Linked DNA regions of Homo sapiens. The protein of the gene in region 1 interacts with the protein of each later gene in a pairwise test. Each region holds a gene or a part of one and is shown in the gene's direction. Other genes may lie near its edges.

Region 1 (7,675 bases):
AAGCGGGTCCTCTAGGGATGAGGAAGTGTTCTGCTGGATGGCTTTTTAAAATGTTTCCTCCAGAGTCATTTGCCTCATTAACTGTGGTTTCTATCTTAGAAGTCTCTCTTGGATTCTATAAACTGCCTGATTTCTTGTTCCGTTATGAATGTATGCTGCTCTAGTGCCACAGTAATCCCCTCCCACATCCTCACCGTGCTGTCTATAGGCACTTTTTCTGTAGTGGTAACAGTATCCTCTTCATTGTCACTGTTACCATGATTGCCTTGATTCAGAACTGAAGGAGGCCAGCCCTTCCACACTGTGGGTATTTCTCATCAGGTGGGACGAGAGACTGAGAAAAGAAATAAGACACAGAGACAGAGTATAGAGAAAGAACAGTGGGCCCAGGGGACCGGCACTCAGCATGCGGAGGACCAGCACCAGCACTGGTCTCTGAATTCCCTCAGTATTGATTACTATTTTCACTATCTCGGCAAGGGGAATGCGGCAGGAGAACAGGGTGATAGTGGGGAGAAGGTCAGCAGGAAAACATGCGAGCAAAGGAATCTGTCACAAATAAGTTCAAGGGAAGGTACTGTGCCCGGATGTGCACGTAGGCCAGACTTATGCTTCTCTCCACCCAGACATCTCAGTGTAGCAGAGTAGCAGAGCAGCATTGCCGCCAGCATATCTCTCCTAATCCTCCTCAGCACAGACCCTTTACAGGTGTCGGGCTGGGGAACAGTCAGGTCTTTTCCTTCCCACGAGGCCACATCTCAGGCTGTCTCAGTAGGGGGAAGCCTTGGACAGTATCCAGGCTTTCTTGGGCAGAGGTCCCTGTGGCTTTCCACAGTGCATTGTGCCCCTGGTTAATCGAGAATGGAGAATGGCAATGACTTTTATGAAGCATACTGCCTGTAAACATATTGTTAACAAGACACATCCTGCACCGCCCTAGATCTCTTAAACCTTGATTCCATACAGCACATTTCTGTGAGCATAGGGTTGGCGCTAAAGTTACAGATTAACAGCATCTCAAGGCAAAACAATTTTCTTAGTACAGATCAAAATGGAGTTTCTTATGTCCTCCTCTTCTACATAGACACAGTAACAGTCTGATCTCTTTCTTTTCCCTACAAGAACAGTTTGTGCTATTTCACCATCGGCTGTTTCTACTGGTGGCATCGTGTCTGCACTCCCAAAAGCTGCAGGTTTTGGAGCATTTCAGATTTTAGGTTTTTGGATTAGGAATGCTTAACCTTGGCCGGGCATGGTGGCTCATCCCTGTAATCCCAGCACTTTGGGATGGGGGGCCAAGGTCGGCAGATCAGTTGAGGTCAGATGCTCAAGACCAGCCTAGCCAACATGGTAAAACGCCATCTGTACTAAAAATACAAAGATTAGCCAGGCATGGTGGCACGTGCCTGGAATCCCAGCTACTCAGGAAGCAGCGGCAGGAAAATCACTTGAACCCAGGAAGTGGAGGTTGCACTGAACCGAGATAGTGCCACTGCACTCCAGCCTGGGCAGCAGAGCAGTATCCTGTCTGAAACAAAAAAGGAACGCTAAACCTTTAGCTCAGACAAGTTATTAAGAAAAATCAAGATCACTTTAAGATATGAAAAAAAAAAAGAAAGGCCAGGTGCCGTGGCTCACGCCTATAATCCCAGCACATTGGGAGGCAGAGGCAGGTGGATCACTTGGGGTCAGGAGTTGGACACCACCCTGGCCAATATGGTTTAACCCCGTCTCTAACAAAAAACTCAAAAATTGGCCAGGCGTGGTGGCAGGCACCTGTAGTCCAGCCTGGATGACAGACTGAGACCCTGTCTCAAAGAAAAAGGATGAAAAATCTACTTAAAAGGCTTGTTATTGGCCAGGTGCGGTGGCTCACGCCTATGATCCCAGCACTTTGGGAGGCTGAGGCAGGCGGATAACCTGAGGTCAGGAGTTCGAGACCAGCCTGACCAACATGGAGAAACCCCCTCTCTACTAATAATACAAAATTAGCCAGGCATGGTTGTGTGCACCTGTAATCCCAGCTACACAGGAGGCTGAGGTAGGAGAATCACTTGAACCTAGTAGGCGGAGGTTGTGGTGAGCCGAGATTGCGCCATTGCACTCCAGCCTGGGCAACGAGTGAAACTCCATCTAAAAAAATAAATAAATAAAGGCTTGTTATTGATAGTAAAAGAAGCTCTCAATTAGGATTTTACAAGCTCATTTTCATCAAACATGGGAAATTTCTGTGCAGAGCTTCATCTGAGAAACTTACTTGGGATTTTTTGATGTGATCATTTTCAGTTACCTGTCTCAGTGGAACGTGATGCCAGTTGTCATGAGTAGCAATAGTAATAAAACTTGTTGCTAATATTTTGGCAACCTACCTTAAGCCACACATTTTGTATGGTTACATGTAATATGTGTCTTGATCTCTGCAGCAGCCATATTAGTTAGCTGCCATTATTCATTTTTTAGATGGAAAAACAGAGACAAAAGTGTGTTTAAGTAACTTGTCCAAGGTCACTTAGGGCCATGATTTTGACCTAGGCAGACTTATTCCTGTGTTCTACTCTTAACTACCACACTCTTTTGCCAGCTAAGAATGTCAAGTGGAGCCAAGTACAATTTGTGGTCAGCTGATTCCTTATTAGGACTCAGATGTTTCTAGATCTTACAGCTTGGCCAGTTGTAAATGAAGAGGAAAAAAAAGCAAGTGGGAGTTTTCTATTCTAGTGGACAGTAGTGACTCAGATGCTAGGGAGTATATATATCATTTGTCCTGTAAATGCCTCTGATGATCCATGGAAAGGTAGAATAGGCTCCCTTTCTGTCAGGTGGCCCAAGGAGGACATACACCTGAGTGGATACAAGTGTGTAGCTAAAGGGAAGAAAAATAGAGTCTGAGCTGGGCACAGTGGCTCACGCCTATAATCCCAACACTTCGGAAGGCCGAGGCGGGTGGATCACCTGAGGTCAGGAGTTTGATACTGGCCTGGCCAACATGGTGAAACCCCATCTCTACTAAAAATACAAAAGTTAGCCAGGTGTGGTGGCTGGCACAATGATGATTTTGCCGAGAATATAATGTACTTGAAGGGAAGAGGTTAAAGTGAGGGATGGGAGGCCTGTAAATCCACCTTGTTGGGTGTTACTTCCAGAGTCAGGACAGAAATGGAGAAACAAAGCAGGCCAGATGGCAGTAGCTTGGACCCATGCTTTCCTTCAGTGAGGTAGCCCCAGCTGATGCTGGCCGTGAGAGAGGGCAGCCCCAGTGTGGCCATATCTTCAGGTTCTTCCAGAGAAGCTGGAAATCCATATTTTCTTGTAAAATACCTCAATTTTATTCACCGATTTAATGGGAGCCTTAGTGAAGGGGAATGATCCCTCCCAAAGTCTCAGGATCATTGTGAAGATGAAAAAGCACAGGTATTTCAGGTGTGCACTGGAGCGCTTACTGATTTCCCTCAAGTCCAGGGTGGGCAAGCATGACTCAGTGCCCAAGAAGGCTCTGGAAAGGGGAGAATGCATCTGCTCTCAGTGGAGAATGGGAGGGCTGGCCCGTGTCATTGCATTTATGTTTCGTGGGAAGCTCCCAGCCCTCATTCCCATAACGTAGTGTCCTTTCTCCTACATCCCCACCTCAGGGTCAGTGCCCTCAAGCTCAGACAAGTCCAAATCCTCTCCCCATGGTATCTGTCCTCTCCCATGTCCACTGTATGAGTCCCTCCCAGGTGTCTCGTTCTAAAATATTTCTGCCAGGCTTAATGGGTGCTGCTCTCTGTATAATGGATGGTCCAGATTGACAAACTTTTTCTGTAAAGGGCCAGATCTTAATGCTTTGCAGGCTTTATAATCTTAGTTGCAGCAACTCAGTTCTGTCATTGTCTTGCAAAAACAGCTATAGACAATCTGTAAACAAATAGGCATGGCTGCATTCCAGTAATACTTTATTTCCAAAACCAGGGAGTAGAAACAGTTTAGTGATTCCTGGTCTAAATCAGTGTTTTCTATACTGATTGTTATCTGCTCTTTGGCTGGATTTTGACCCTGGGATCATCTTGGTCACTGTGGTCATGAAGTACCTGGCAGAGAGAGTTAGGTAGCCAGAAAGCATTTGTTGTGCAAACGAAGGTCCCACTGATTCCAGAGACTTCTCTTACTCTGCCCAGCCTAAGGAGGCCTGTCCCTCTGCCGTGCAACCCCAGCTGCAGTTCAAATCTTTTTTTTTTTTTTTTTCCTGAGACTGGGTCTTGCTCTGTCATCCAGGCTGGAGTGCAGTGACATGATCATAGCTCACTGCAGCATTGATCCTGAGTTCAAGCCATCCTTCCGCCTCAGCCTCCCAAGTAGCTGGGACTACAGGCATGCCACCATGCCTGGCTAATTTCTTTCCTACTTTTTGTAGAGATGGGGTCTTGCTGTGTTGCCCAGGCTGGTCTTGAACTCCTGGCCTCAAGCAGTCCCTGGGCCCAAACCCCCTGTAATCCCAAAGTGCTGGGATTATAGGCCTGAGCCACCATACCCAGCCTAAATCCTTTTATTTATTTATCCCATAATAGCCATCTGTGAGCCAACTGCCCAGCCTAAGAGCTAGAACAGGTTAGCAATAACCTTTGAATTTCCACTTAAGATTTCCTGCTTTTTTGAATAGTTTTACCAAATAGGTAAATATTCCTAAGTGCTATATTGTTTAGTTTTAATTTTAGAGCTTTGCAAACTGTGCTGTATGTGGTCTTCATGAGTTATTTTCATGCAAGAGTTTAATAGTATTCATCTATGAATGAATGCCTCTGGGTGAATATACTAGAATTTATGTATTCTGTCAGTCAACATTTGCATTATTCCCAGGTTTTTTGCTGTTATGAACAATTCTGCAAAGAACATTTCTTGTCCATGTCTCCTAGGGGACATATTGAGGAACTGCTATTTGTAGGCACTTCTGACCCCATTATGTAGCTATGACTATCCACAACTTCTAGTACCAGACCGAGTTCCCAAAGGCAGTGACTCAGTGAATTGGCCAGTTCAGTGCCAGGGTCTGCCAGGCCCCACAGCTCCCACACCTCTTCCTTGCTCCTTACCTGTGCCTTCTTTCCCCCAGATTCAACTGGCATGCTGGGCCGCATCGTCTTTGCCTGGTGGAAAGGGTGAGTTTGTCTTCCCGGCCAGCAACTCTGGCAACTCTTCCCAGTAGTGGTAGTAATGATAGTAATAGTATTGCCATTAATTGTGGCTGTAAGGGTTCCATGAGATGATCTATGCAAAGTGCTTAATGCCCGTGGCATCGTACATAATGGCTCAGTAAACACTAGCTACCATTAACAGCTGTAACTGTGCCCCCTGAGCCTCTGTATGTTGTCTCTAATCCTTACAGCAACTCTGTAGGATGGGATTGGATGTGTACATTTCATAAATGTGAAATATACCTGCATGAGGGAAGTTACCTGCCCAAACCACACAGCTTATAACTAGCGAGATGGGATTTGAACCTGAAGCCTGTGCTTTCCATGGTATTGGGCAGTTCACTGGGCAGAACCCTCAACCAGGCCATGTGTTCAGGATCTCGTTATGTGTGTCTGATACCTCTCCCAAGAATATTCCCATTCCCTCCAGGAGATCTCATACTGAGACTCGGGCCTAATGCTGCAAATCCTGAGCTGGGCTGGGGCTGCAGTATCTCCTGCCACTGGGACCCTAGAGAAGTTGTTTCCAAGTGTTTGTGCACAGGGCAGGGAGTCACTGTCTGACGAAAAGGGCAGGTGAGGTAGCCGTCCACGGTGTTGTGTAACAGAAGTACCCTAGGCCTGGATGTCGGAGCCCGGCTCTCTTAGCCTTTTCCCCAACTCTGCGTGTGATCCAGGGAAATCATATCCCCTGTGAGGGCTAGTTGTCTGTAACATGCAGGGTTACACACTCAATGTGATGTTTACTAGTCCAAAACATGCTCACTGGGTACCCTCACTCTAAAGCAAGAAGAAGAACGGAGAGAGGCAGAGGAACTCAGGAAGAGCCTCCCTCCAAGGACAGACAGAGGCTGGGGAGCAGCCACAAGACAATCAGGGTTTTTCCTTGGTAAATCATGAGTTCATAAGCGGGAGACACTAGGTGATCAGTCAGTCACTGAAGGTTCTCCCAGCTAATGGTGGCATTTTAGGTAGCAGTGACCGGCTGTGGGGACAGATGTCTGTCTGGGGGTGTGGGTTTTCCTGAGCTCTTCAGACTTTACTGTGGTCCAAGACTCCCCACACTGCCCATAGGATGTGTTTCTCCTTAAGTCCAAATTACAACAACCTCTCCTCCCCAACAGGAGCAAACTGGACTGCAATGCCAAGCAGTGGAGGTGAGGAGGGGCGGGGACGGGGGAGGGGAGTCTTCCATTATGAAAGTCTCCTACCTCTGACCTCTAACCTCTGATCCCTCCCCAGGCTTTTTGCGGACATCCTCAATGACGTAGCCATGTTCCTTGAGATTATGGCTCCTGTATACCCAATCTGTTTCACCATGACCGTCTCCACCAGCAACCTAGCCAAGGTAGCTGCCTGTGGGGGCACCCATCTGCCTAAAACACCTGCCTTGGTAGTGTGTGAGTTTACCTGGGCTCTGTGAGTTTACCTGCCACTTCAAGAAGAATAAGAAAGTTCAGATGTTTCTACTCGAACCCAACCATCCTTTCTGACCCTCCTCCAGCCAGACAGCATCTAGTGCCCCAGAAAGTGTAAGGCAATGTCTAGAGCCACAGGACTGGGGAGGGAGCTCCGAGCTGAGAACTAGAAGGGGTTGTCCAATGTTGACATTTTGGGACCAGCTTCCTTGACTTCCCTTTGGTTCTTTCAGTACAGTATTTATTGAGTGCCTACTGCATATTTGGCACAGAATGTGGGCCCCCGTCTTTGAAAGGAAACCACACATAATTGCACCAGTGTTTGTGGAATTATAGGTACAGGTATTCTAAATGAGAAATGTTGGGGCCTGCAAGAGGCTGAGGCGGGGATTCCAGCCTGGTCAGGGAGTGTAGGAAGAGCTCCCCTGAGCCTGGGTCCTGAAGATGGAGTTTAAGGTGCAGGGCGGGTGTTCCGGGCAAAAGAAACAGCACAGCTTAAGGTCTGGAGGCGAGGTGGAGATGGAGCACAGACCGCACAGTGAGCTGGGGGACACGCGGGGCTCAAGCACACTCTTCCTCCACGCCAAGCTGTTGCCTGCACAACCCTTGCAGGTTGATCTCACCCAAATGAGGACACTGAGGCCTGGCATGGTTCAGTAAAGAGCATATCCTGTCAGAGTTAAGTCCCTGGCCCAGAGGAGAAACTCAAGAAAATGGAAAACCCATTCCAAGGCCCATGTGTCAACTTAAAATCACGTTAGGGCCGTGTTTCTCCATAAGTACTAGCATTTGGGGTGCAACGGTTCCTTGTGGTAGAGGACATTTAGCTTCCTTGGTTGCAAGCCTAAATGCTACGAGCACCCCTAAACAGGGTAGGAAACCCCAGAGAAAAGCATGGCTGTAGCTATGGACCGAGGGTTGTGCCATCTGGCTTTTGCTTCAAACTCTGCCTTTGAGACTTCAGTCTCTTCATCTGTCCAACAAGGGAATGGAACAGGGCCATGAGCTTCCCTCTTAAGACCCCTCTCTAGAGTTCCCCTCTCCACAACCTCCATCTCCAGCTGCACCAAGAGAAGCCAGCCTGGCTGT
Region 2 (7,363 bases), on another chromosome or scaffold:
AACCTGGGCAACAGAACAAGACCCTGTCTCAAAATGAATAAATAAAAAAACCCAAACAAACATGGGTATTTTGGCATTCAATGCTGTAGGTTCATTGGAAGAATTTTCTTTCTGAAACTTCTCTAAGCCTCAGAACTGTATATGCTAAGGAGTTTGAGGAGACTTCACGGTGGGAACCCCAGATTCCTAGAAAATTATCTCAAAGTTTTGTAGGCTCTTTGTCAATTTCCTTCTTTTTCATGCCATTTAAAAATTAACTGTCTAAGGATTTCCACATGATTAGAGCCTATATTTTTATCCCTTTTCTTGTTTTGGTTTTATTTCTTTTGTAAAGCCTTAACCTTAAAAAAAAGTTTGTTTAGATCTAATTAACATACATACAATTAACTCAATTAAAAGTGTACACTTCAGTGGTTTTTAGTTTAATCACAGAATTGTGCAACCATCATCATAATTTTTTTTTTCTTGAGACAGAGTCTTGCTCTGTCGCCCAGGCTGGAGTGCAATGGCACGATCTTGGCTCACTGCAATATCCGCCTCCCAGGTTCAAGTGATTCTCGTGCCTCAGTCTCTCGAGTAACTGGGATTACAGGCAGGCACCACAACGCCTGGCTATTTTTTGTATTTTTAACACAGATGGAGTTTCACCATGTTGGCCAGGCTGGTGTCAAATTCCTGACCTCAAGTGATCCACCAGCCTCAGCCTCGCAAAGTAGTGGGATTACAGGCATGAGCCACTGCGCACTGCCTGTTTTTGAATATTTTCATCACTCCCAAAAGAAACTCCCTGGCTATTACCACCTCCCAATTGCCTCTTACCCACCCTAGGCAACCCAACCACCAATCTGCTTTCTGTTCCATAAATGTGTCTATTCTGGACATTTCATAGACACGCAATCATCCAATACAGGGCCTTTTGTGACTGGCTTCTTTCACTTGGCATAATGTGTTCAACATTCATCTATGCTGTAGTATGCATTATTTCTTCATTCCTTTTCATGGCTGAATACCATTCTGCTTGTGAATTTGCTACATTTTGTTTTTCCATTAATCAGTTGATGAACATTTGAGTTGCTTCCACTTTTTGGCTATTATGATGCTGCTATAAACACTCCTGTACAACTTTTTGTTTGGAATTTTTGTTTGCAATTCTCTTGGATCTCCAGGAGTGGAATTGTGAGGTCAAATGGTAACTTTTATTTTTTTTGGCGACAAGGTCTGGCTCTGTCGCCCAGGCTGAAGTGCAGTGGCGTGATCTCAGCTCACTGCAACCTCTGCTTCCTGGGTTCAAGCCACTCATCTCAGCCTCCCAAGTAGCTGGGATTACAGGCACCGGCCACCAAACCCGGTTAATTTTTTGTATTTTTAGTAGAGACGGGGTTTCGCCATGTTGGCAAGGCTGGTCTCAAACTCCTGACCTCAAGTGATCCACCCACCTTGGGCTCCCAAAGTGCTGGGATTAAAGGCGTGAGCCACCACATGTGGCCAGTAACTTTTTATTTTTTTAAATAAAGCCATATGTCTTAGAACTTGTTCATTTATTTATGAGATGGGGTTTGCTATGTTTTCCAGAATGGTTTTTTTTTTTTTTTTTTTTAGACAGTCTCACTCTGTTGCCCAGGCTGGAGGGCAGTGGCGCAATCTCAGCTCACTGCAACCTCTGCCTCCCAGGTTCAAGTGATTCTCCTGCCTCAGCCTCCTGAGTAGCTGGGATTACAGGTGCCCACCACCATGCCCAGCTAATTTTTTTATTTTTATTTTTTAGTAGAGACAGGGTTTTACCATGTTGGCCAGGCTGGTCTTGAACTCCTGGGCTCAAGCGATCCTCCTGCCTCAGCCTCCCACTGTTGGGACTACAGGCGTGAGCCAACACACCTGGCTTCAAATGATAACTCTATGTTAAACTTTTTGAGAAATTGCCAGATTGTTGTTTAAAAGTGGCTGCACCATGTAATCTTTTTTTAAAAAAAGAATTTTACAATCCAGCTGGACATGGTAGCTCACACGTATAATCCCAGCTCTTTGGGAAGCTGAGTAAGGAGGATTGCTTAAGGCCAGAAGCTCAAAACCAGCTTGGGCAACACAGTGAGACCTTGTCTCTATTTAAAAAGGTTTCTTTTTTTTTTTTTTTTTTTTTACTGGACTCGGGCTCACACCTGTAATCCCAACAGTTTGGGAGGCCAAGGTGGGCAGATCACTTGAGGCCAGGAGTTCGTGACCAGCCTGACCAACATGGCAAAACACCTTCTCTACTAAAAATACAAAAATTAGCGGGGCGTGGTGGCATGCGCCTGTAATCCCAGCTACTCAGGAGGCTGAGGCAGGAGAATCGCTTGAACCCAGGAGGCAGAGGTTGCAGTGAGCCAAGATCGTGCCACTGCACTCCAGCCTGGGCGACAGAGCGAGACTCCATCTCAAAACAAAAACAAAAATTTTTTTTGAAATCCCATACAAGGCAGCTAGGATGAAAGGTTTGAGGTTGCCTTTTTTACATTCTCCTACGGTCTCAATCACTAAGTCATATATGGTGCCATTGGTGGTGGGGCTCCTTTAATTACATTATCAGTCCTAGCCTGGTAAGGGACATCTCATTAGGAAGTTTGGTTCCATCATTATATACACAATTCAATACTGCCTGCACTTGCAGATAATGTCACACCCATTACAACAAGGAAGATAATTCAAATGGTGCAAGATAACAAAAGAGGGCAAGAATCATGGAAATAAGAGGGTATTCAGTGAAGGAACTGAGCCATTGTGTTGAACATTACAGGCTTCACCTGATAAACTTTTGTTAAAGATGGCTGGGTGTGGTGGCTCATGCCTGTAATCCCAGCACTTTGGGAGGTGGAAGTGAGCGGATCACTTGAGCCCAGGAGTTTGAGACCAGCCTGAGCAATTTGGGGGAAACCCCATTTCTGTGAAAAATATGAAAATTAGCTGGGCACGATGGTGCACATCTGTGGTCCCAGCTACTCAGGAGGCTGAGACAGGAGGATCACTTCAGCTTGGGAGGCCGAGTCTGCAGTGAGCCATGATCATGCGACTGCACTCCAGCTTGGGTGACAGAGCAAGACCTTGTCTCAAAAGCAAGAACAACAAAACTTTATTACCTTTAAAGCACCCTGTACTCCTCCCCCATCCCATTCCCCTAACACTTAACATGAAGTTTATACATCTTTTTCTCATGCTTCATGTCAGTTCAAACAATTATGTATGCATCTCTAAACAATATGTTATGAACTTGCCTGTTTTGAATTTTACATAATGGAAATATGTAGCAGTGTACCATTTTGTGATTTGGTCCCTGCCAATATAGTCTGCAATTGACTACCATAATTGTGTGAGCTGTATTAAATAATTTTCACTGGTCTTTTGTACCCGATTAAACACGAAGATGGGCCAGGCGTGGCAGCTCACACCTGTAATCCCAGATCCTCCCGAGGTGGGAGGATCACTTGGGTCCAGTAGTTCGAGACCAGCTTGAGTAACATAGGGAGACCCTGTCTCTACAAAAACAAACCAAACCATGAATATATCAAAGTTGGTTTTTACATTTGACTGTATGGACATCTGCTTTTTCTCCCCAATTTTTAGTGAGTCATACTGCTGCTAAAAACATTGGTGTTGCTATGAGCATTATTTTGTCTACTTGTGCATAGGTGCAACTGTTTCTCCAGGGTAATATATTCTCAAGAGAGGATGTGTATATCTTTAAGTGTACTGCATAATGCCAAATTACTTTGCAAAGTGATTGTACAAAATTATACTTTAAAAATTTTCATTTTCATTTTATTTTATTTATAAATAGAGTCAGAGACTCCCTATGTTACCCAGGCTGGTCTGGAACTCCAGGACTCAAGCGATCCTCCTGCCTTGGCCTCCCAAAGTGCTGAGATTACAGGCCTGAGCCACCGCGCCTGGTCCAAAATTACATGTTTATCAGCAGTGATTAATATACAAGCACATCAACAGACACACGCATAGCACACACATGAGCATGCACACGTGTGCGCACTCCCTACACATCTACGCATGCACACACCCATACCATCACACACCACACACGCGCACACAGATGCACATACATGCACTCACTGCACACACCGTTGTACACGATGCACACTACAAGCCACATACACGCACTACGCACACACGCACACGCACAACACCAGACCGGCACACAGACCCATAAACGTCCATCACGCACTCCACGCACGTCCGCATGCACGCTACCCGTCCCGGAAGCGTGGTCTCCGCCGCCTGCCTCTGACGAAGCTTGTCCCGGCCGCGCCACCGTCGGACGCCCGGGGTCGGAGGTCACGGCGGCGTTGGAGGTGGCGTGGTTTTTTTTTTTTTTTTCACCCGGAAACCGCGGTTGCCGGAGCCCGAACTGAGGCGGCGGCGGGAGCCCGGTTGGCGTCTGGTCTTCGCGTCGGCCCCGCGGAGCCAGACGCTGCCCCCGGCGCGGGGAGAAGATGGTGCCTAGCGGCCTCGGGCCCGCCACGCGCCGCCACGAGTGAGCCCAGCGCGACCGCGGGCGTCCGCCGAGCAGCTGGCCCGGCTGGGCCCGGGGCGCGCAGCTGCCCGCCGGGGCGGGGTGAGCCGGGGCTGGAGGGCGGGCTGGGGTCGGGCCCAGTCGGGGCTGCCCGCGGGGCCGGGAGCGGGGAGCGTGCTGGTCGGGAGCGGCTCCTCCGCCGGCTTTTTTCACCGCTTCTCAGGGTGCAGACCCCGCCCCAACTGCTGGCGGGGGTCGCCCAGCATCGGCCGACCTCGGCCTGGTCCCCCCACACTGGGGTTTGCCCACTCGCGTCCCCCGAGCCAGGGTTCCCTGCCGGCCTTGGAGATGGCGGGACTTCCCACGTCTGGAGCCGAGGCCTGGATAATTCGGATTTGGCACGGGAAACATCTTGGTCGTTTGCCATTTTTCGGCTTTGGGGAGTGTTTGCGTTTCTTCTCCGTTTGGCAGTGAAACACATCTCAGAAAGGTGGGAGGGAGAGACTCACGTACGTCCACAAAGTTAAATGGCATAGTGGTGTTCCCTGTGTCAAGCTTGGTAAATATCCGGAATGGGGTGGATTCTTTCTTCATGTTTTTAATAAAATGAGGAGTGATCGCAAGGTAATCTAGAGGCATGTAGTTTCAGTTCCCTTGATGGGGACCATCAGAAATAAAACCAGGCTTGTTGTGCTGTTTTGAGTCGTTTGAACGCCGTACCCATCGGACAGCTGGTGAGGAGGCCTTTGTGGAAGAATCTGATGTCTGAGTTTAGTTCTCAACTAGCAGGTGACAGCCCTCACTGGCTGATGAATGGTGAGCTTCTCTGAAGCCTGCTTTGTAAAGATTGTGGCTTCCGCCTGAACTGCTTCTTTCCTGCCTCAAAGGTGAGCCGCTACGGGAGGGAATGGGAAGAAAAACTCCGAGACTGCTGATGAATATGTGATAAAGTGGTTTGTCTCGATAGCACCATCAGCTTGGGTCAGCTTAGGGTCTCAGCATGTGTATCTCATTTGTAGATGAGTGTTCCATCAGCGCTTGACCGATAAGGGTGTCCATCTACTTCCTCTTTTCATCTAGGGATTCTGACAGGAAATAGACCTGTCGCGCACCTAAGGTATACTTAGGTGTGCATTGACCCTAAGTGCATTTACTCTCTAGGATTAAGGATTTGGAGTTTCAACTTGTAGTGAAGATTCTGGGAGAATTCCTGTGGCCTGAATCAGGTGGACTGGAATCACTGCTAGCACCGGAGTCTCAATGCTAAAATCACCAAAGGCTAGTTAACTGGCACCTTCTCCGTTTAGGCTCTAGCTGCATCTGTGGCAAGGAGGAAAGGTAGATTATATATATATATGTTTTTGAGACAGAGTCTCACTCTTGTCGCCCAGGCTGGAGTGCAGTGGTGCGATCTCTGCTCACTGCAACCTCTGCCTCCCAGGTCCAAGCAATCCTCCTGCCTCAGCCTCCCTAGTAGCTGGGATTACAGGTGCCCGCCACCATGCCCAGCTAATTTTTGTATTTTTAGTAGAGACAAGGTTTCACCATGTTGGCCAGGCTGGTCTTGAACTCCTGACCTCAGGTGATCCATCCTCCTCGGCCTCCCAAAGTTCTGGAATTATAGGCGTGAACCACCCGCACCTGGCATAAGTGCGAATATATTAATAGTTTCTGCCTGTAAGGAATGTACTTAGAGGAAGCAATAGGCTAGAAAATGTGGCAGGACTGAATTGCCATAGTGGTATACCAACTGTTCAGGATTTTGTTATGGTTAGGATCAGAAACTAACTTTTTTTTTTTTCTTGAGGCGGAGTCTTGCTCTGTTGCCTAGGCTGGAGTGCAGTGGCGCGAAGTTAGCTCACTGCAACCTCTGCCTCTCAGGTTCAAGCGATTTTTCTGCCTCAGCTGCCTGAGTAGCTGGGATTACAGTTGCCTGCCACCACGCCTGGCTAATTTTTGTATTTTTGGTAGAGACGAGGTTTCATGTTGTTGGCCAGGCCTTGAACTCCTGACCTCAGGTGATCTGCCCACCTTGGCCTCCCAAAGTGCTGGAAGTATAGGTGTGAGCCACCTTGCTCAGCCCGAAACTCGTGAAGTAAACTTTGAGGTGGACCTAGAAAGATCAAGAGGATTTGGGCCATTCAGAATTAGCTGGGAAATGAAAAAACTAGGGCCAGTTGGTGGACAAGCACCCAGGCTAGGTAGCTGGACAATCAGTGCCTAGAAATATTGGCAGAGGCAGCTAGTTAAGGGTTAAATGCTTTTCTAAGAAAGATAAGCATAAGCTACCCAGTCTAGTTTCTCGTAGATTTCTGGGTTTTTTTGTTTTTGTTTTCTTTGAGATGGAGTCTTGCTCTGTTGCCCAGGTTGGAGTGCAGTGACGCAGTCGGCAACCTCTGCCTTCTGGGTTCAAGCGATTCCTCAGCCTCCTGAGTAGCTGGGACTACAGGTGCATGCCGCCACACCCAGCTAATTTGTGTATTTTTAATGGAGACAGGGTTTCACCATGTTGGCCAGGCTGGTCTCAAACCCTTGACGTCAAGTGATCCGCCTGCCTCAGCCTCCCAATGTGCTGGGATTACAGGCGTGAGCCACCAGGCCTGGCCTTTGGTTTCTAAAGAATTGTTTTCATTTAATGAGTTTGTCTTGTTCTGTAAGAGGCCGTTGGCATAAAACAATGCTTAACTTATTTTATTAAGGACAATGAAAAAGATGCTGATTGTCATTCCTGTCTGGTATTGACAATCAGGAAATTAAATTTGATGTCTGTGAGTTGTTTCAGTGCCTGTGTTCAGTTTGCAGGAGCACAGCTCTAGTCTGGTCTCTGCAGCTCTGGCTACAGCCAAAGGATAAATGGCAAGCCCT

The links. Proteins that work in one complex are often made in the same cells at the same time.
Region 2: the proteins of RUSF1 (region 1) and TMEM248 interact in binary tests that used the Homo sapiens proteins (3 or more experiments, as listed by UniProt).

Annotation. Positions count from the first base shown.
Region 1 is NC_000016.10:31,498,143-31,505,817, reverse strand, and holds part of RUSF1 (RUS family member 1), read left to right. Parts: intron 1-5,086; coding exon 5,087-5,132; intron 5,133-6,292; coding exon 6,293-6,325; intron 6,326-6,410; coding exon 6,411-6,516; intron 6,517-7,675.
Region 2 is NC_000007.14:66,916,862-66,924,224, forward strand, and holds the start of TMEM248 (transmembrane protein 248), read left to right. Parts: upstream 1-4,363; 5' UTR 4,364-4,600; intron 4,601-4,972; exon of another isoform or gene 4,973-4,988; intron 4,989-7,363.